Linked DNA regions of Homo sapiens. The protein of the gene in region 1 purifies or fractionates together with the protein of each later gene. This does not show direct contact. Each region holds a gene or a part of one and is shown in the gene's direction. Other genes may lie near its edges.

The links. The genes of interacting proteins can lie anywhere in the genome.
Region 2: the proteins of HACL1 (region 1) and PNPT1 fractionate together in Homo sapiens (co-fractionation; one large-scale study listed by BioGRID). This does not show direct contact.
Region 3: the proteins of HACL1 (region 1) and MST1R fractionate together in Homo sapiens (co-fractionation; one large-scale study listed by BioGRID). This does not show direct contact.
Region 4: the proteins of HACL1 (region 1) and WDFY1 fractionate together in Homo sapiens (co-fractionation; one large-scale study listed by BioGRID). This does not show direct contact.

Annotation. Positions count from the first base shown.
Region 1 is NC_000003.12:15,590,723-15,595,995, reverse strand, and holds part of HACL1 (2-hydroxyacyl-CoA lyase 1), read left to right. Parts: intron 1-4,315; coding exon 4,316-4,396; intron 4,397-5,273. UniProt on the Homo sapiens protein: Peroxisomal 2-OH acyl-CoA lyase involved in the cleavage (C1 removal) reaction in the fatty acid alpha-oxydation in a thiamine pyrophosphate (TPP)-dependent manner.
Region 2 is NC_000002.12:55,690,070-55,695,436, reverse strand, and holds the start of PNPT1 (polyribonucleotide nucleotidyltransferase 1, mitochondrial precursor), read left to right. Parts: upstream 1-1,592; 5' UTR 1,593-1,613; coding exon 1,614-1,774; intron 1,775-5,367. UniProt on the Homo sapiens protein: RNA-binding protein implicated in numerous RNA metabolic processes. Catalyzes the phosphorolysis of single-stranded polyribonucleotides processively in the 3'-to-5' direction. Mitochondrial intermembrane factor with RNA-processing exoribonulease activity.
Region 3 is NC_000003.12:49,892,899-49,897,795, reverse strand, and holds part of MST1R (macrophage-stimulating protein receptor isoform 1 preproprotein), read left to right. Parts: intron 1-110; coding exon 111-276; intron 277-379; coding exon 380-516; intron 517-905; coding exon 906-1,067; intron 1,068-1,162; coding exon 1,163-1,256; intron 1,257-1,388; coding exon of another isoform or gene 1,389-1,391; coding exon 1,392-1,601; coding exon of another isoform or gene 1,602-1,676; exon of another isoform or gene 1,677-1,688; coding exon 1,689-1,835; coding exon of another isoform or gene 1,836-1,915; coding exon 1,916-2,081; intron 2,082-2,247; coding exon 2,248-2,349; intron 2,350-2,422; coding exon 2,423-2,629; intron 2,630-4,897. UniProt on the Homo sapiens protein: Receptor tyrosine kinase that transduces signals from the extracellular matrix into the cytoplasm by binding to MST1 ligand. Regulates many physiological processes including cell survival, migration and differentiation.
Region 4 is NC_000002.12:223,895,861-223,900,757, reverse strand, and holds part of WDFY1 (WD repeat and FYVE domain-containing protein 1), read left to right. Parts: intron 1-1,687; coding exon 1,688-1,800; intron 1,801-4,897. UniProt on the Homo sapiens protein: Positively regulates TLR3- and TLR4-mediated signaling pathways by bridging the interaction between TLR3 or TLR4 and TICAM1.

The DNA of each region.
Region 1 (5,273 bases):
TATTATTAAAAATTAATACATTTTTAAAATGTCCATTTTGGAAAACTTGGAAAATATAGAAAGCACAAAGAAGAAAATGAAAATCGACTAGGCACGGTGGGTCACGCCTGTAATCCCAGCACTTTGGGAGGCTGAGGCAGGTGGATCACCTGAGGTCAGGAGTTTGAGACCAGCTTGGCCAACATGGTGAAACACCATCTCTACTAAAAATACAAAAATCACCCTGGTGTGGTGGCATGCGTCTGTAATCCCAGCTACTCGGGAGGCTGAGGCAGGAGAATCGGCTTGAACCCAGGAGGCGGAGGTTGCAGTGAGCTGAGATTGCGCCACTGCACTCCAGCCTGGGTGATAGAGTGAGACTCCGTCTCAAAAAAAAAAAAAAAAAAAAAAAGGAAAAAAGATGAAGAAAATCACCTATGATCTCAGAACTGTTAAGAATTGGTCATTTTCTTCCAGTTTTTTCCCTTATCTATGTATTTTTTAAGCAGAATTTGGACTCTCACAGGAATGTGTATCATACTTTTTTCACATATGTTAGTTTTAATACATTTTTTTATTTCCAAAAATGAAACTAGTAATTCAGTTGCTAAGAAATGCAAACTAATAAGATTCTCAAAGTCTAGACCTCACCAGAATAGTTTTTTTTCTGTGATAAGGAACTTGTGAATTTGAACCTGAAAAAAATAGGCCATCAAGTAACACTATTGTCACTGTTTTCTGCCGCTTTATTTACATATGACAAATATTTTAATCTTTTCATTTAGCTTGGAAAGCATTTAAATTATAGTTATTAATTAATGCCTTAATGTAAAAAATGCTAGAACAATGATTAAGAGAATGGTTAAAAGTTCATACTTTTTTTTTTTTGAGATGGAGTCTTGCACTGTTATCTGGGCTGGACAGTGCAGTGGTGCAATCTCGGCTCAGTGGAACCTCTGCCTCCTGGGTTCAAGCGATCCTCATGCCTCAGCTTCCCCAGTAGCTGGGATTACAGGCATGCACCACCACACCCAGCTAATTTTTGTATTTTAGTAGAGATGGGGTTTCACTATGTTGGCCAGGATGGTCTCTGTCTCTTGACCTCATGATCTGCTGGCCTTGGCCTCCCAAAGGGCTGGGATTACAGGCGTGAGCCACCATGCCCGGCCGAAAAGTTCATATTTAAAACATTTTTGCTGTTTGAATGAACTTCTGGAGCTGCACTGGCAAGTATAGTAGCCACGAGCCGTATGACTTGTTTACATTTAAATTAATTAAAATTAAATAACATTTAAATCATAGTTTATCAGTTTGTAGTAGCCACATTTCAAGTGCTCAGTAACCATGTCAGTAGTGGCTACCGTATCATACTGCAAATGCAGAACATTTCTATTACTATACAAAGTTCTGTTGGATAGTACTGTTCTAGAAGTTTAGTTTACTTGGTGGTAATTACTTATTTTCAAGTCTGTCTTAAACAGAAATTTTTAAGAAATTATTTTATAAGTGTAAAATGGTGAACTGAATTATATTGAGATACCTTTTTCCCGAGTGGTTTAAGCTTAGAAAGTCACACTGAAGGGTAAAACATTCAAGTTCAATATTTATTTATTTGGAGTCTCACTCTGTCGTCTCCATGCTGGAGTGCAGTGGCACCATCTCGGCTCACTGCAAACTCCACCTCCCAGGTTCCAGCGATTCTCCTGCCTCAGCCTCCCAAGTAGCTGGCACTACAGGTGTGCACCACCATACTCAGCTAGTTTTTATATTTTTTAGAGACAGGGTTTCATCATGTTGCCCAGGCTGGTCTTGAACTCCTAGACTCAAGTGATCCATCTGCCTCAGCCTCTCAAGATGCTGGGATTACAGACGTCAGCCACCGTGCTCAGCCTCAAATTCAGTTTTAAAAGATTTTGGGGACCAGGCGCGGTGGCTCATGCCTGTAATCCCAGCACTTTGGGAGGCCGAGGCGGGTGGATCACCTGAGGCCAGGAGTTGGAGACAAGCCTGGCCAAACATGGTGAAACCCCGTCTCTACTAAAAATACAAAAATTAGCCGGGTGTGGTGGCACATGCCTGTAATCCCAGCTACTTGGGAGGCTGAGGCAGGAGAATCACTTGAATCCGGGAGGCGGAGGTTGCAGTGAGCCGAGATCACACCATTGCACTGCAGCCTGGGGAACAAGAACGAGACTTCGTCTCAAAAAAAAAAAAAAAAAAGACAAAAAAAAAAACACAAAACATTTTGGGCAGAGCACTGCATTCAGAATTACTTTCCTATCAAAGATCAGTCGACGTTATATTTATTTGTTAAGAAATGAAAAAAAAACCTTTTTTCATACAAAAATGAACTCAGCAGTCAAAAATTTGCTTCTGTATACCATTAACTTGATTTAGTCCAGATGTAGTCCAGATCAAAATAAGTGGTTAGAGACATAAGGTGTGAAAATGATAGGTACCTTATTTCTCACAAGAAATCCGATATCTTTCTTTTTTTGGGCCAGGCATGCTGGCTTATGCCTGTAATCCCAGCACTTTGGGAGGCCAAGGCAGGCAGATTGCTTGAGCCCAGGAGTTCAAGACCAGCCTGGGCAACATGGTGAAACCCCATCTCTACCAAAAAAAAATACAAAAAATTAGCCGGGTGTGGTGGCATCTGCCTGTAGTCCCGGTTACTTGGGAGGCTGTGGTGGGAAGATCACCTGAGCTTAGGAGGTTGAGGCTGCAGTGAGCCCTGATCATGCCACTGCACTCCAGCCTGAGCAACAGAGTGAGATGCTATCTCAAAAAAAAAGTGTGTATATATATACACACACGCACATATATATGTGTGTATATATACACACATATATACGTATGTGTGTATGTGTGTATATATACATATATACGTATGTGTGTGTATATATACACACACATATATGTATATGTGTGTGTATATATACACTTTTTTTGAGATAGCATCTCACTCTTGCCCAGAGTATATATGTACATATGCGTACATGTGTATACACGCACACATGTGCGTACATGTGTATACACGCACACATGTGCGTACATGTGTATACACGCACACATGTGCGTACATGTGTATACACGCACACATGTGCGTACATGTGTATACACGCACACATGTGCGTACATGTGTATACACGCACACATGTGCGTACATGTGTATACACGCACACATGTGCGTACATGTGTATACACGCACACATGTGCGTACATGTGTATACACGCACACATGTGCGTACATGTGTATACACGCACACATGTGCGTACATGTGTATACACGCACACATGTGCGTACATGTGTATACACGCACACATGTGCGTACATGTGTATACACGCACACATGTGCGTACATGTGTATACACGCACACATGTGCGTACATGTGTATACACGCACACATGTGCGTACATGTGTATACACGCACACATGTGCGTACATGTGTATACACGCACACATGTGCGTACATGTGTATACATGTGTATATGTATACAAGTGTATATACAAGTGTATATGTATACAAGTGTATGTATACGTGTGTGTATGTATACGTGTGTGTATGTATACGTGTGTCTACATGCATACGTGTGTGTATACGTGTGTCTACATGTATACACGTGTGTGTATACGTGTGTCTGTATGTATACATATATATAGAGTATACTCTGGTGCCCAGAGTATATATACATATATGTATACATATATATACGTATGTATACATATACACGTATGTATACGTATATATGGATCCATATATACACGTATGTATACGTATATACGTATGTATACATATATACACGCATGTATACATATATACGTATGTATACATATATACATGCATGTATACGTATATACGTATGTATACATATATACACGTATGTATACGTATATAGTGTGTATATATACGTATATAGTGTGTGTATATATACGTATACGTATATACGTATATATACGTATATAGTGTGTGTATATATACGTATGTAGTGTGTGTATATATACGTATATAGTATATACTATAGGTATATAGTGTGTATATATATACACTATGTATATAGTGTGTGTATATATACACGTATATACGTATATATACACTATATACATATATAGTGTATACACTATATACGTATATGTGTGTATGTATATATATCGCGATATATATATATCGCCTTGTTTTTTAATTAAAAATATTCTAATAATTGTTTTATCAGTTATAGTAAAGACTTGTATGTCCTTCCTTTGAAGTCCAAGATTGCCATGTTTCACACTAAAGTGTTATGAATCAGTTGTTACATTTGACCTGATTTTAATAAATTCTGTTTTGCTTTTAGGCCAGGAGTCTGCCTTGTTGTTTCTGGCCCAGGTCTCATCCATGCCTTGGGCGGTATGGCAAATGCAAACATGAACTGCTGGTAATGACATTATTATTACTGAAAACATTTTCTTAAAAAGGTCACTGCAGGATTTTACTGAGTAGAGCTAATGCTGATCTAGGGTAGAAAGACTTGGAAAAAAAAAACCCCTTCAATTCTTAGAAACTGAAAGTAGAGTTAGTTACCGGGGAGGGAATGAGGAGGAGGAGGGGGAATAGGGAGATAGGTCAAAGGGTACAAAGTTTCAGTCAAGTACGATAAAGCCTGGAGATCTAATGTACAACATGAAAGCCATAGTTAATAATATTGTGTATTGTAAATTTGCAAAGAGAGTAAATTTTAGGTACTTTTACCAAAAAAAGTGACTATTTCTACAATATCTTAGGAAAAAAAGTAACATGAATATGTTAATTTGCTTGACTGTAGTAATCATTTCACTATATGTACATCAAAATATCATATGGTATACCTTAAATAGATATAACTTAAAAAAGAGTATTAGGAAGAAAATTCAAAGCACCAGTAATTTAGTTACTTAGAGATAAACACTTTCTTTTTTTGAGACGGAGTCTCTCTGTCGCCCAGGCTGGAGTGCAGTGGTGCAATCTTGGCACACCACAACCTCTGCCTCCCAGGTTCAAGTGATTCTCCTGCGTCAGCCTCCCAAGTAGCTGGGATTACAGGCCCCTGCCACCACGCCCGGCTAATTTTTGTATTTTTAGTAGAGAAGAGGTTTCACCATGCTGGCCAGGCTGGTCTCAAACTCCTGACCTCAGGTGATCCACCTGCCTTGGCTTCCCAAAGTGCTGGGATTACAGGCATGAGCCACCGCACCCAGCTGCCATAAACACTTTTAACATTTTAGAGTTCCTAATATGTGTGTGTATGTGTGAACGTATGTGTAGTTCTATTTACT
Region 2 (5,367 bases), on another chromosome or scaffold:
GAAATCCCAAATCAGTAATAATAGCTCATGAAAGCAAGGTGTCAGAAAACTGCTTTGCCAGCAAATCATTTGTCTGTTTAGAGCTCATCATTCTTTTTTCTTTTTTAAATCATCACGGATCAACATTTTTAATTTTTTTTTTTTTTTTTTTTTTTTTTAGATGGAGTCTCGGTCTGGAGTGCAGTGGCGCGATCTCGGCTCACTGCAACCTCCGCCTCCTGGATTCAAGCGATTCTCATGCCTCAGCCTCTGGAGTAGCTGGGATTACAGGCACGCGCCACCACACCGAGCTAATTTTTGTATTTTTAGTAGAGACGCGGTTTCAGCATGTTGGCCAGGATGCCCTGGGTCTCTTGACCTCGTGATCCACCCGCCTCTGCCTCCCAGCGTGCTGGGATTACAGGCATGAGCCACTGCGCCCGGACTTTTTTTTTTTTTTTTTTTTTTTTTTTTTTTGAGACCGAGTTTCACTCTTGTTGCAATGACGCGATCTCGGCTCACTGCAACCTCCGCCTCCCGGGTTCAAGCGATTCCCCTGCCTCAGCCTCCCGAGTAGCTGGGATTACAGGCATAAGCCACCATGCCCGGCTAGTTTTGTATTTTTAGTAGAGACGGGGTTTCTCTGTGTTGGTCAGGCTGGTCTCGAACTCAGGTGATCCGCCCGCCTCGGCCTCCCAAAGTGCTGGGATTACAGGCGTGAGCCACAGCGTCCAGCCAACGTTTTTAATTCTTAAAACTGTGTTTGAATGAGTGTTGGGTTTTTGTTGTTTGGTTTTCTTTGGGGTAAGGCGGTTATCACCTTACACAAAAAATTTACATCATAATATGAAAATGCCCATTGGTTCATTCAAGGAAAAACATAAAGAATTTCTAACAGAATGGATTAATGGGGTGGAAGAAATTTATCCATTCTCTAAAAATTTTTCAAATCCCAAAAACTTTTTTTTTTCATTTTACAAAATATTTACTTCAAACAGTAGCTGGCATTTTGCATTTAAGAGTTCGACCAAAAGGGACAGAAATATAAATTGCTAATTATTAGCAATGGAAATGAAAATGAATCAGAAGTGACAATAAAGATTTCTAAAATTACAAGTCGATGAAAAATGAATTTACTGTAAATTGGTTAACACAAATCGCTGTAGTAACATATCTGCTATGTGAAATTTTTAAAATAAAAACCAGGGCGGAGAAGGGGAGAAGGAGATCTCTTTCCAAGGCCCACCACCCAAATTCTAATTCTTAGTTCACAGATCCAAATAATAATAATGTGTTGTTCTATGACTTCTAGTATTAAAAGTAAATATAAATTTACTCTGCATATTAAACATTTACATTATTCTAGGACTTCTCCTTTAAATTACGATAGTACACACACAAAAACCTTATTTATCTAATTGCCTTTCGTTGGCACATAAAGACAAAGATCGTTTGCAACATAATCGCGTTCTGATAGGTTTGACCCTCTCTAGTCTTCGTAGAAGGTGGCCAAGGTTTCCGTTACCCCGGCGTCCCTCGGGCACCGCGGAAACGAAACTCCATCAGGCTCCGCCCCACGGTCTGCGGAGTGAGCCAATCAGGGCACAGCCTGCGTTGACCGCGTGCCGGGTGTCATGGCGGCCTGCAGGTACTGCTGCTCGTGCCTCCGGCTCCGGCCCCTGAGCGATGGTCCTTTCCTTCTGCCACGGCGGGATCGGGCACTCACCCAGTTGCAAGTGCGAGCACTATGGAGTAGCGCAGGGTCTCGAGCTGTGGCCGTGGACTTAGGCAACAGGTAAGGAGTGACGTGCGTTCACTGTATTGTCATAAGGTGTCTTGTCCAGCCAGCTTGAGCGTATTCATCTCCCAGGGTAGAAACCCGGTATCCCAGCTCTATTTAATCTCTCCTTACCCTAAACCTAAATTCCAAATTTCCCTTTCCGGGTTTGGAATGTGTCTCCTCGGACCCTCCTTCCCGCGCTATGTCGTTCTCTCTGTTGGTGTGTGCCGGGCTTCTTTGCTCCATCCGACTCTGTCCGTCCACCTGACTTCCGATCTCTTTACTTTCCGGGACCACTGGGCTCTTAAGTGGGAAACATTCCACCTAGGAATAACGAGTTGACGTGGGTGAGACGAGGCCCCCCGGGATGCTGGCCCGGACCCTGGAAGCTGGGGCTCTGATGCCCCTCGAGCTGGGACACAGACCTCAGCAGAGGCTCCGGGTGGCTAGTGCACCACGGGTCCCCCACGTCCCACTCCTCGGGCTCCTTCAGCCTCCTCTTCACCAGGAGCCTACCTTGTAGAAGTTGAACACCAGGTCCAGTTCACAGACATTGTGGAAATATTCGTTTAAGACCTGGGAGAGGAAGGCAGAGATGGTAAGAGATGGACAGGGAGAGAGCCACACACGCACAGAGATGGGAACAAGGTCATCAGAAAGAGACAGCAAAAAAAAGAGACCAAGAGGGAGGCAGGGGAGAGAGAGAGACAGTGACAGGGAGAGAGGCAAGGAGACACACAGAGAGAAACAAAAGCAAAGATCGATGCAAAGAGATGGCAAAAGGTCAGGCGCTCACACCTGTAATCCCAGCACTTTGGGAGGCTAAGACGGAAGGATGACTTGAAGTTAGGAGTACAAGATATCATGTCATCCAATCTAATTGATTGCCTAAAGTGTGACCACTATGACCCTGGGTTAGGAGGAAAAGGAAAAGTCAGTTTTTTGAACGCCAGTTATATGATCCTCGCAATCTTTTTAAACCTGTCGTAAAGGTACTATTACCCTCATTTTATAGTTAAGACTACAGAGGCTCAAAAAAGGTTAGATAACTTTCTAAGAGTCTATAAAAAAGTTAGTATTATGGGACTAGGTGGTTTTTGAATTTCTGTTTTTTGCTTACAAAGCCCATACTTTTTTTTAGGGGACCGCTTTTTAAAAAAAAAGTTTGCTTTAATCGTTCTTAGAATAAATGGAATTGCTAATGCAAACTTCATATATCTAAATTTTTTACGTGTACTTTGAAAAAATTTGGACCCCAGTTCATACAAAAAGCAAAAAAATCATTTTGAATCCAGGTCTCGCACTCTAACTTTGATAAGTAGTTGACATTGAACAGGTTAATTCACCATTTTCTTGTGCAAAGTGTGGAGAGTGGATTCCATCAAGGGTCTGCAAACTTTTCTATAAAGGACCAGATAATATATATATTAGGCTTTTTGGGGTACACACTGTGTGTATGTGTTTACAAACCCTTTAGAAATATTTTAAAAAACGGCCGAGCACAGTGGCTAACACCTGTAATCCGAGCACTTTGGGAGGCTGAGGTGGGTGGATCTCCTGAGGTCAGGAGTTCGAGACCAGCCTGGCTACAATGGTGAAACCCCGTCTTTACTAAAAATACAAAATTAGCTGGGCGTGGTGGCAAGCACCTGTAATTCCATTTACCTGGGAGGCTGAGGCAGGAGAATCGGTTGAACCCAGGAGGCAGAGGTTGCAGTGGCAGAGATCGTGCCATTGCACTCCAGCCTGGGTGATAAGAGTGAAACTTTTGTCTCAAAAAAAAAAAAAAAAAAAAAAAATATATATATATATATATATATATATATATAAACATTTTTAATTGAAGAGTAATATAGAAATAGGCCACAAGCTGTAGTTTGGTCACCCCTAGACTAGGTTATCTCTAAGGCTTATTCCACTCCCAGCATTCATTAATTCTGATTTTTGAGGGAAGTGGACATCTCTTCCATTCTTCAAGGACTACACATGCTTCAAAGAAATGCCCAGAACATTTCATTCAACAGACACATACTGTGAGATAGGCATTAGATACTGAAAACAAGATGCAGCTGCTGCCCTCCATATTTTCCATAAATAATCTACTTTGACTCTTTCATTTATTAATCAACCTGTTCCTCTTTTGTAGGTAGTTCTTTTTAAACTCGTGTCATGTGTTGAAATAACTAGACTAATAAAATATCATACCTGCTGGATAAATTCTTTCATTTTTGTCTTGTTTGCCATTGGCAACATTTATTGAGTGACTACTATGTACCAGGCACATTATATTTGTTATCATATATATTCTTTACTGCATTCTGGAAGATTATATAATTATTGTAGGTGTTTTTCAGATAGTATATTTAATGCTTACAGTAACCTTGGAGGCAGGTGTTTAATTTTCATTTCAGCAAGCTTTTATTGAGCATCTACTATGTATCAAATCACTGAGGATATTCAACAGAATATGCCACAGTGGGCAAAATGCTAAGGCAGTAGCCCCGTTAGTAGAGTAGAACTGTAGCTTTCACAGTTTTTCTTCCCTGTGTTTTGGGCCCACTTCTGTCTAGTTAAAGATCCTCCACTCCCCTTCACAGAGATCACTTAGGTATTCAGAATTTACATTGGTAGACAGAATGCCAGTTCCTGGTAAGTTTTGAGAAGTACTGGTGGCATGTTACTCAGGGTTAAACAAAATTTCAAGATGTCAGATTTACATTTGCCTCATGAAACCATTACTTAATACTGATTTCAGCTATAGGTTGTTGCAGGTCTGTGATACTACACAGTGTGACTGGTTTTGAGTATCTCATTCCTTCCATCTACTCAACATACTAATCCAGCATCAGCCTCTCTGTACCTCATTCCCATTAGTCACAGGAGACCCATTTTATTGTAGGCTTTCATCATTATAACATCTGTGTTGAATAAATAGAAACCCAACTAGAATTTCTCAAATATTCCCTGATTTTAAAAAAAAACTAATATTTCAGAGTCAAGAATTTGATACTACAAAATCATTGTATTTATTAACATATATTAAATGTACATACTTTGTTCTGACTTTCAAACTTAACAAAATGAGTCTAACTGAATAGATAAATATGCTTTTCATTAACTCAGGCTTCTGGCAAAGGTATTTAACAGGTGAAAATATTAAGGGTTGTTCCTTCATCTCCTTGGTATGTGAAAGACAGAATAATCTTACTTGGGGTAGGGCATTGGGCCTGTCTACATGCTTGTGTTTGGTTTGTGCATTTTCAGCACCAGACTATGATAGAATGTTGCCGAAACTGAGTTCATGTGACACAACATCTTTCTCTTTCTCTGTATCTTCAGGGGTCACTGACTTGGTTTCATCTCAAAACACCTTTTGATGAATCTTGAGCTCTTTGACAAGTTTTGCTGGTCTGTTTCAAGACATCAGTAACCTCTTTTTGCATTCTCTGCTGAAACTAGGGAATAAGGCTAATAGTGCTGCCTATTTCATGTATATAAGACACCTTTATTAAGATATAATTCACATACCATACAGTTAATTTAAAGTGTACAACTCGTCTGGGAGCAGTGGCTTATATTTGTAATCCTAGCACTTTGAGAGGCCAAGG
Region 3 (4,897 bases), about 34 Mb from region 1:
GGTGGAGAAATGCCATTCTCTGGCTCAGAGGAGCCCTGTGGCTTGTGGCAGGCATGCATCTAGGCCTGTGTAATTCCTGGCTGACCTCAGGGGTTCCCCTGGTGCCCCAGACCAGTGCCCCGGAAAGACTTTGTAGAGGAGTTTGAGTGTGAACTGGAGCCCTTGGGCACCCAGGCAGTGGGGCCTACCAACGTCAGCCTCACCGTGACTAACATGCCACCGGGCAAGCACTTCCGGGTAGACGGCACCTCCGTGCTGAGAGGCTTCTCTTTCATGGTGAGGCTACCTTGCCCTGTCTGTGCCCTTGGCCAGTGCATGGTACGGGAAGGGAGGGGCTTGGAGTGGAGGACCTGCCTAAGCCACCTCTATGTCCTCTTAGGAGCCAGTGCTGATAGCAGTGCAACCCCTCTTTGGCCCACGGGCAGGAGGCACCTGTCTCACTCTTGAAGGCCAGAGTCTGTCTGTAGGCACCAGCCGGGCTGTGCTGGTCAATGGGACTGAGTGTCTGCTAGCACGGTAAGTACCACCAGGCAGGCATGGGAGGCCGCAGGGTTCTATCCAGGTGGGGACCCGGATTCTGTCAGGATGGAGGGAAGAGTGCTTGTTACATGGTCAGTGTGGTGTGGAGAGCAGGTCCAGGAAGAAAAGACTACTGCCCTCTTCAGCCCAGAGGCAAGAGAGCCCATCACAGAGTCCAATGGCTCCAGCCAAGGCTGTGGGGAACCTGTTCCCTCCTTACCCTCTTGGGATGTCTTCCTGGGACCACCTTATTTTCAGACAGACCATGGAGTGGGGCAGGTGGGAGAGATAACAGACGAACTGGGAGAGGTCAACAGGCCCCTGGAAGAAGTGGGCCTGGCCATCACAAAGAGGGTAACCTTGAGCCCAATCTCTTGTTCCTGTAGGGTCAGTGAGGGGCAGCTTTTATGTGCCACACCCCCTGGGGCCACGGTGGCCAGTGTCCCCCTTAGCCTGCAGGTGGGGGGTGCCCAGGTACCTGGTTCCTGGACCTTCCAGTACAGAGAAGACCCTGTCGTGCTAAGCATCAGCCCCAACTGTGGCTACATGTAAGCACTGCCTCTTTGCCCACTCTGGCCTCTGGGGAATGAGAGAGCCAGCTTTGGAGAACACCCAAAGCCTACCACCCTACCCTCTTCCACAGCAACTCCCACATCACCATCTGTGGCCAGCATCTAACTTCAGCATGGCACTTAGTGCTGTCATTCCATGACGGGCTTAGGGCAGTGGAAAGCAGGGTGAGTGAGTGCTGGCCAGGAGGGAGGAAGGCTGGATGAGTTCCCTGAGCTGCAGCCCAACCTCGTGCTGGGCTGAGGCGAGGAGCAATCACAGGTGGGGTTCCTGGCTAATCACTCTCATATTGGTCCCAGCAGTGTGAGAGGCAGCTTCCAGAGCAGCAGCTGTGCCGCCTTCCTGAATATGTGGTCCGAGACCCCCAGGGATGGGTGGCAGGGAATCTGAGTGCCCGAGGGGATGGAGCTGCTGGCTTTACACTGCCTGGCTTTCGCTTCCTACCCCCACCCCATCCACCCAGTGCCAACCTAGTTCCACTGAAGCCTGAGGAGCATGCCATTAAGTTTGAGGTAAGTGTAAGGGATAGGGGCAGGGACAGTTGGGGATCTGAAAGTAGGGGCCAGCCTACTGGCTGGTCCTCATGACCCTCTCTGCAGTATATTGGGCTGGGCGCTGTGGCTGACTGTGTGGGTATCAACGTGACCGTGGGTGGTGAGAGCTGCCAGCACGAGTTCCGGGGGGACATGGTTGTCTGCCCCCTGCCCCCATCCCTGCAGCTTGGCCAGGATGGTGCCCCATTGCAGGTAGGCAGCCCAGCTGGACCTCCCTGGGAAACACGGGCAGAGGGCCTACAGGCTGGGCCTGAGTTGCCACCTGCCCCCAGGTCTGCGTAGATGGTGAATGTCATATCCTGGGTAGAGTGGTGCGGCCAGGGCCAGATGGGGTCCCACAGAGCACGCTCCTTGGTATCCTGCTGCCTTTGCTGCTGCTTGTGGCTGCACTGGCGACTGCACTGGTCTTCAGCTACTGGTGGCGGAGGAAGCAGCTAGGTGAGTTCTCTGCTCCTACCTTTAATCAGCCCCTACCCCCAACCAATGGCATCTTCAAGTCCCTACATCCTCTCTCTGCCCAGGACTTAGGGATCTAAGTCCTCCCCAGAGGGGTCGGCCCCTAGGAGCTTGGAAAGCCAAGCCACCAAGGATTCTCTTTCCACAGTTCTTCCTCCCAACCTGAATGACCTGGCATCCCTGGACCAGACTGCTGGAGCCACACCCCTGCCTATTCTGTACTCGGGCTCTGACTACAGAAGTGGCCTTGGTGAGATAGTGGAGGCATGAGAAGCTAAAGCCACCCCCTGTCCCTACAAGCTCCTCATTCCCTCTCCCCACAGCACTCCCTGCCATTGATGGTCTGGATTCCACCACTTGTGTCCATGGAGCATCCTTCTCCGATAGTGAAGATGAATCCTGTGTGCCACTGCTGCGGAAAGAGTCCATCCAGCTAAGGGACCTGGACTCTGCGCTCTTGGCTGAGGTCAAGGATGTGCTGATTCCCCATGAGCGGGTGGTCACCCACAGTGACCGAGTCATTGGCAAAGGTGTGGGGGCCAGGTGGGGCTGGGGCAGAGATGGAGTCTCAAGATGACATAGGCTAGGCCAGGCGTGGTGGCTCACTCCTGTAATCCCAGCACTTTGGGAGGCCGAGGCGGGCAGATCATGAGGTCAGGAGATCGAGACCGTCCTGGCTAACACAGTGAAACCCCGTCTCTACTAAAAATACAAAAAAATATTAGCCAGCCATGGTGGCAGGCGCCTGTAGTCCCAGCTACTTGGGAGGCTGAGGCAGGAGAATGGCATGAACTCGGGAGGCGGAGCTTGCAGTGAGCCAAGATTGCACCACTGCACTCCAGCCTGGGCGACAGAGCGAGACTCCTTCTCAAAAAAAAAAAAAATGACATGGGCTAAAGGGACAGTTGGAACAGATACTGCTCTAACCTTCTCACCAACCTGTGTGACCTTGGGTATACCACTTAACCTCTCTGAGCCTCCATTTGCTCATCTGTAAAATGGGGATGAGAAAAGTTCTGTCTTCAGTGGGTTCTGGTGTGGATCAATCAGGCATAGGAAGATTGTAGCCTCTGCCATCAAGTGGCTGCTGTTTGTTTTTGGTTTTATTTATGGTTTTGTTTTTGTTTTTGTGACAGGGTCTCACTCTGTTACCCAGGCTGGAGTGCAATGGCACAATCATGGCTCACTGCAGCCTCGACCTCCCCAGCCTCAGGTGATCCTCCTGCCTCAGCCTCCTGAGTAGCTGGGATTACAATCATGCACCACCATGCCTGGCTAATTTTTTGTTTATTTTTTGTAGAGATGGGCCTCGAATCATGTTGTCCAGGCTGGCCTCGAACTCCTGGACTCAAGCAATCTGCCTGCCTAACCTTCCCAAAGTGCTGGGATTACAGGCATGAGCCACCGAACCCAGCCTGTTTTATTATATTTATTTTATTTTATTTTTATTTTTATTCTATTTTATTATTATTATTTTTTTTGAGACAGAATTTCACTCTTGTTGCCCAGGCTGGAGTGCAATGGCGCGATCTCGGCTCATTGCAACCTCCTCCTCCCGGGTTCAAGTGATTCTCCTGTCTCAGCTTCCTGAGTAGCTAGGATTACAGGCGCCTGCCACAACACCCGGCTAATTTTTAGTATTTTTGGTAGAGATAGGATTTCACCATGTTGGCCAGGCCGGTCTCGAACTCCTGACCTCAGGTGATCCGCCCGCCTCAGCCTCCCAAAGTGCTAGGATTACAGGCATGAGCCACTGCCCCCAGCCTATTTTATTTTATTTTATTTTTTTTTTTTTTTTGAGAGGGAGTCTCACTCTTTCACCCAGGCTGGAGTGCAGTGGCGCGATCTCGACTCACTGCAAGCTCCGCCTCCCAGGTTCATGCCATTCTCCTGCCTCAGCCTCCCAAGTAGCTGGGACTACAGGCGCCTGCCACCGTGCCCGGCTAATTTTTTGTATTTTTAGTAGAGATGGGGTTTCACCGTGTTAGCCAGGATGGTCTCGATCTCCTGACCTCATGATCCACCCGCCTCAGCCTCCCAAAGTGCTGGGATTACAGGTGTGAGCCACCGCGCCCGGCCTATTTTATTTTTTCAAGATGGAGTCTTGCTCTATCACCCAGGCTGGAGTGCAGTGGTGCAATCTTGGCTCACTGCAACCTCCCCCTCCCAGGTTCAAGCAATTCTCCTGCCTCACCCTCCCTAGTAGCTGGGATTACAGGCGCCCGCCACCACACCTGGCTAATTTTTGTATTTTTAGTAGAGATGGGGTTTCACCATGTTGGCCAGGCTGGTCTCAAACTCCTAACCTCAGGTGATCTGCCTGCCTTGATCTCCCAAAGTGCTGGGATTACAGGCGTGAGCCACTGTATCCAGCCTATTTATTTATTTATTTATTTATTTATTTATTTATTTATTTTTGAGACAGAACCTCACTCTGTCACCCAGGCTGGAGTGCAGTGGCATGATCTCAGCTCACTGCAACCTCTGCCTCCCGGATTCAAGTGATTCTCCTGCCTCAGCCTCCTAAGTAGCTGGGATTACAGACGTGCACCACCAAGCCCGTCTAATTTTTGTATTTTTAGTAGAAATGGAGTTTCATCATGTTGGCCAGGCTGGTCTCAAACTCCCGACCTCAGGTGATCCGCCCGCCTCGGCCTCCCGAAGTGCTGGGATTACAGGCGTGAGCCATCGCACCCGACCCTGCTTTATTTACTTATTTATTTATTTTTATTTTTTTGAGACAGAGTCTCACTCTATTGCCCAGGCTGGAGTGCAGTAGTGCAATCTCGGCTCACTGC
Region 4 (4,897 bases), on another chromosome or scaffold:
GGTTATTTGCAGACTCTGTAAGTATATGTACTGAACATTAAGGGTTTATAGCCCTGGGGTTTGTTCCTAAATGGGCTACAAGGAGTTTTACACAAAACTTTTGCTTAATGCTTTTTTTTGTGTGGAGAGGACCCATAATCCTTATAATACTCTCAAAGATGGCTCAGGATCCCCCAAAATGCTAAAAATCACGGCCTAAAAAATTCCTGCTACTACATGGAATTTGCTTCATGTAGAGCTCGCCCTTACCTAAGGATACCTCTGCCTGCTGTGTATCTTAGTGATGGCAAGATCAAGGTTATCAACAACAGGCAGACACCCCGCAGTAGTTTCTCTCTCAGAGTTGAATGTCTGGCTTAGTAAAATTCTGTCCATTGAAAGCCTTTCTTTAAAATGTTTGCTACAAATGAATGCACAGCATGAGATATTTAAAATAGTATCATATACTTTAGGATCAAACAAGCAAAAAATACTCTGATATAGTATGTGCTACATAAGCGTTTTTGTTACGTGCTAGGCCTCTCAAAATGGATTTGTAGAAAATGACACAGAATCACAGTTCATGCCCTAGTTTACGGTGCTCTTTTTGACCCGTGTTTTGGAAGAGTGATAGTTATCCTACTGTAAATAGCTTTCCTATTACAAATAGTAGTTAACATGTCGTGTATAAATTTCTGGTTTTCCACAAATATCTATGACCACAAATCGAGAAAGTAATGAGTTGTGACCAATAGTTAATATATTTTCTAAATTTAAATGTACTACCGCCACAAATAACTGCGTTTTGGATTATTAAACTATCCACAGTAATTTAAAGTGAATCATCCTCTTCATTTATAGCTAAATTCTCTAGGCCAAAAGAAACATGGATTCATGTCTTGTATTTACTGTCAGATTTACATTATTTTCAGAGATATTTCATAAATAACCATTACGTTTCAGAGCTTTCTTGCTGTTTTCAGTAGTTAGCAATTTCTTTTTCTTTTCTTTCCTTTTTTTTTCTTTTTTTGAGAAAGAGTCTTGCACTGTCACCCAGGCTGGAGTGGTACAGTGGCACCATCTCAGCTCACTGCAGCCTCTGCCTCCTGGGTTCAAGCTGTTCTCTTGTCTCAGCCTCCTGAGTAACTGGGATTACAGGCGTGTGCCACCACGCCCAGCTAATTTTTTGTGTTTTTAGTAGAGACGGGGTTTCACCATGTTGGCCAGGTTGGTCTTGAACTCCTGACCTCAAGTGATCTGCCCGCCTCAGCCTCCCAAAGTGCTGAGATTACAGGCATGAGCCACTGCAGCCAGCCCAGTAGTTATCAGTTTTACTCTTTGACACTTTATTGTACTTGATTATATCTACTTGTTTTCGTGTGTGTCTGCCCTACCAGCTCTTTTTTTATTGCCAGTTCCTGGGATCTTGCTTGATATAGTAACAGGCACTCAATGAGTTCCTGTTGAATGAATGAATATAAACTTTCTCAGTAATAACAGCTGTTTTAATTTTTACCTTCAATATTTACATATTGCATGCTTTTCAGTTGGGTGTTTCCTTTCTTGTTATAGTTTTACGTGTATGCTTATTCTCTTTAAAATGCATGTTTTCTAACTTTGAAAACTAACTTTGACTAATGCTGGTATCTCTCTTATGAGAGGACTTTCAGGTGATTTCTGTTCTACATCCTTGACTGCTTCTCCTCAGATATGACTTTGACACTCAGTATGCTTTCGTTGGTGATTATTCTGGGCAGATCACCCTGCTGAAGCTTGAACAGAACACGTGTTCAGTCATCACAACCCTCAAAGGACATGAAGGTAGGCTATATTATCACCCAAGAGTTTTTTTTGCCTAACTTGGACATCCAAATTCAGTTCTCTACTATGTGGATTCATGAATGCTGTGTTCCTCATGATCTGTCAGATTTCATTTTGATTGGCCAGATATGGGATTTAGAGTGAAAACTAAGTGAAGGTGGGGTGATGGGTTCATTTCATATTGTCGAAATCCCTTCTAAATTGCTTGTGTGGATAATACTTTCTACGTTGCTTACCTTTTTAAATTAAGTTATGGCTGGCACATTGGTTCACACCTGTAATCCCAGCACTTTGGGGGCCGAATTAGGTGTACCACTTGAGGCCAGGAGTTCGAGACCAGCCTGGCCAACACAGCAAAACTGCCTCTCTACTAAGAATACAAAAATTAGCCAGGCATGGTGGCGCATACCTGTAATTCCACCCCTAGCTACTCGGAAGGCTGAGGCAGGAGAATCACTTGAACCTGGGGGGCAGAGGTTGCAGTGAGCCGAGATTACAGCACTACACTCCTGCCTGGGTGACAGAGTGAGACTCTGTCTCAAAAAAATAGAAATAAAAATAAAATAAGTTATTGTGCTGGGAAGACCTTTAAAATTACTTCTAACTGGTAAAAACCTTTTGGAAGAATTGTTGTTATTACTTTAAAAAAATTTGTCAGTTTCTAAGCCCCTGAGCAAGACCTGATAAATACAATTAGAAGAAATGTGTGGGCTGGTTCAGCCTCTGCTTGGGAAACATACCCTGTGTAGGGACTGAGGGAAAAGAATTACTGGGTGGAATTTCATTTCTGTAGTGCAGTGGGTTGGTGAAGCTCTGTGGAGGGGTTTTTAAAGTCCATTGATTGTATTGAGTGACTCGCCACATACACATGTGTAATAAAGAGGTTTCATTAGATGCTGTATTGGGCCATTCTTGCATTGCAGTAAAGAAATATCTAAGACTGGGTAATTTATAAAGAAAAGAGGTTTAATTGGTTCGTGGATCTACAGGCTGTACAGGAAGCATGGTGCCGGCATGCTTCTGGTGAGGGCCTTAGGAAGCTTACAGTCATAGCAGAAGGTGAGGTGTGAACAGGCACATCACATGACAAAAGCAGGAGTGGGGGTGTGGGGGTGCCACACACTTTTAAACAACCATATCTCAAGGGAGCTCATTTACTGACTCAAGGAGAGCACCAAGGGGATGGCACTAAACCATTCGTGAGAAATCCACCCCCATGAGCCAACTACCAAGCCCCACCTGCAACATTGGGGATTACAGTTTAACATGAAATTTAGAGGCTGGGCCCGTTGGCTTACACCTGTAATCCCAGCACTTTGGGAGGCTGAGTTGGGCAGATCACTTGAGGTCAGGAGTTTGAGACCAGCCTGGCAACATGGCGAAACCCCATCTCTACTAAAAATACAAAAAACATTAGCTGGACGTTGGCAGGTGCCTGTAGTCCCAGCTACTCAGGGAGGCTGAGGCAGGAGAATCTCTTGAACCCGGGAGGCAGAGGTTGCAGTGAGCCAAGATCATGCCATTGCACTCCAACCTGGGTGACAGAGAGAGACTCCGTCTTAAAAAATATATATATATATATATATATATATATATATATATATATGCGAAATTTAGAGGGGACACATGTCTAAACTATGTCAGATGCTAAGCTGTAATGGATTGCAGTTTTCATACAGATCACAAGATCACATTCTGATATATGTCACAAAGTACAAGCTTTGAGGCCATCTGGTTTATGGAGAACTGGGGAGTTGCTGAAAGAATCAATGATGGACTTATTTATGACCATAGTAAGCGTTTCAGTTGTAACAAGTTATAATAAATGTACACTATGCTTTCTATGTAATCTATTTAGGTGAAATGGAGTATATCAAATCAAGGACCCTGTAGGGGAAAAGAAGAAAAGAGAACAGCAAGTTAAAATAGCTTTGGGCAGGAAAGCAGAGGCCCGTGAAGAAACCACTTTCTGTTTATGACTAATTCTCTCATGACCCCCAGGCTCGCCAGTTTTTTCAGGGTTGCTAAAGGCAGAATGGGTTCTAGTAACTACCAGAATGGGTACTGGTTTTCATGCTGAAAGACCGTATTTATCTGCTCTTAAGCCTCTAACTGAAATGGATGGCACATAGATTACACAGGGTCGAAAGTCATGTGAAAGTAACCCCTGAAGCCTTTGCAGAATATTTGTTTCTACTTTTGTTCTGTTTTTGGAAAGTGTATGTGATAAAGTAGTTTCTGTTTGCTTTTGAATATGGCATCATTAATTTTCTATATACCTACCAAAATTATTATTAGCTTGTGTGGCTGGTTCAGTTTTACTAAGTTGATTAATGTTTCTTCTAGACAAACAGCAGTCGATGAACAAGGAAAGGACCTACTGAAAGATATACCTGTAGAAAGAAAGATTTCCCCAAGGGTTTCAAATTTGATAAGTTAGCCAATATAAAGTATGAAATGTGAAGTTCAGATTTTTCACATAAATTACTTGGCATAATTATGTAGTGTACAACAGACTTTTTTCTGTGGTACTTAATGTAATTTGCTTAAACATAGACATCTTGGGGTAAAACACCTGCCATGTCCCAGAGACCCAGAATAATCTAGATTTTTTATCTTGTGTAGGTTGGACACAGTAAACTTTACTGGTTTTTGTCACTAAATATTAGTAGCAATTTTTTTCTTCATTCTGAACATTTTGTATGTAAGCTACTTTGTAATTTTTGTCACAGAAGAACGAAAAACTTCTTTAAAAATCTTTGTATTACAAGCAGTTTTTTTTTTTTTTTTTTTTTTTTTTTTGAGACAGAGTCTCACTCTGTCACCCAGGCTGGAGCGCAGTGGTGCTATCTTGGCTCACTGCAACTTCCACCTCCTGGGTTCAAGCAATTCTCCCACCTTAGCCTCCCGAGTAGCTGGGATTACAGGCGCCTGCCACCATGCCTGGCTAATTTGTTTTTTTGGAGAGATAGGGTTTCACCATGTTGGCCAGGCCTAGTCTTGAACTCCTGGCTTCAAGTGATTCGCCCTCCTTGGCCTCCCAAAGTGCTGGGATTACAAGTGTGAGTCACCATGCCCGGCCCAAAGTAGTTTGATG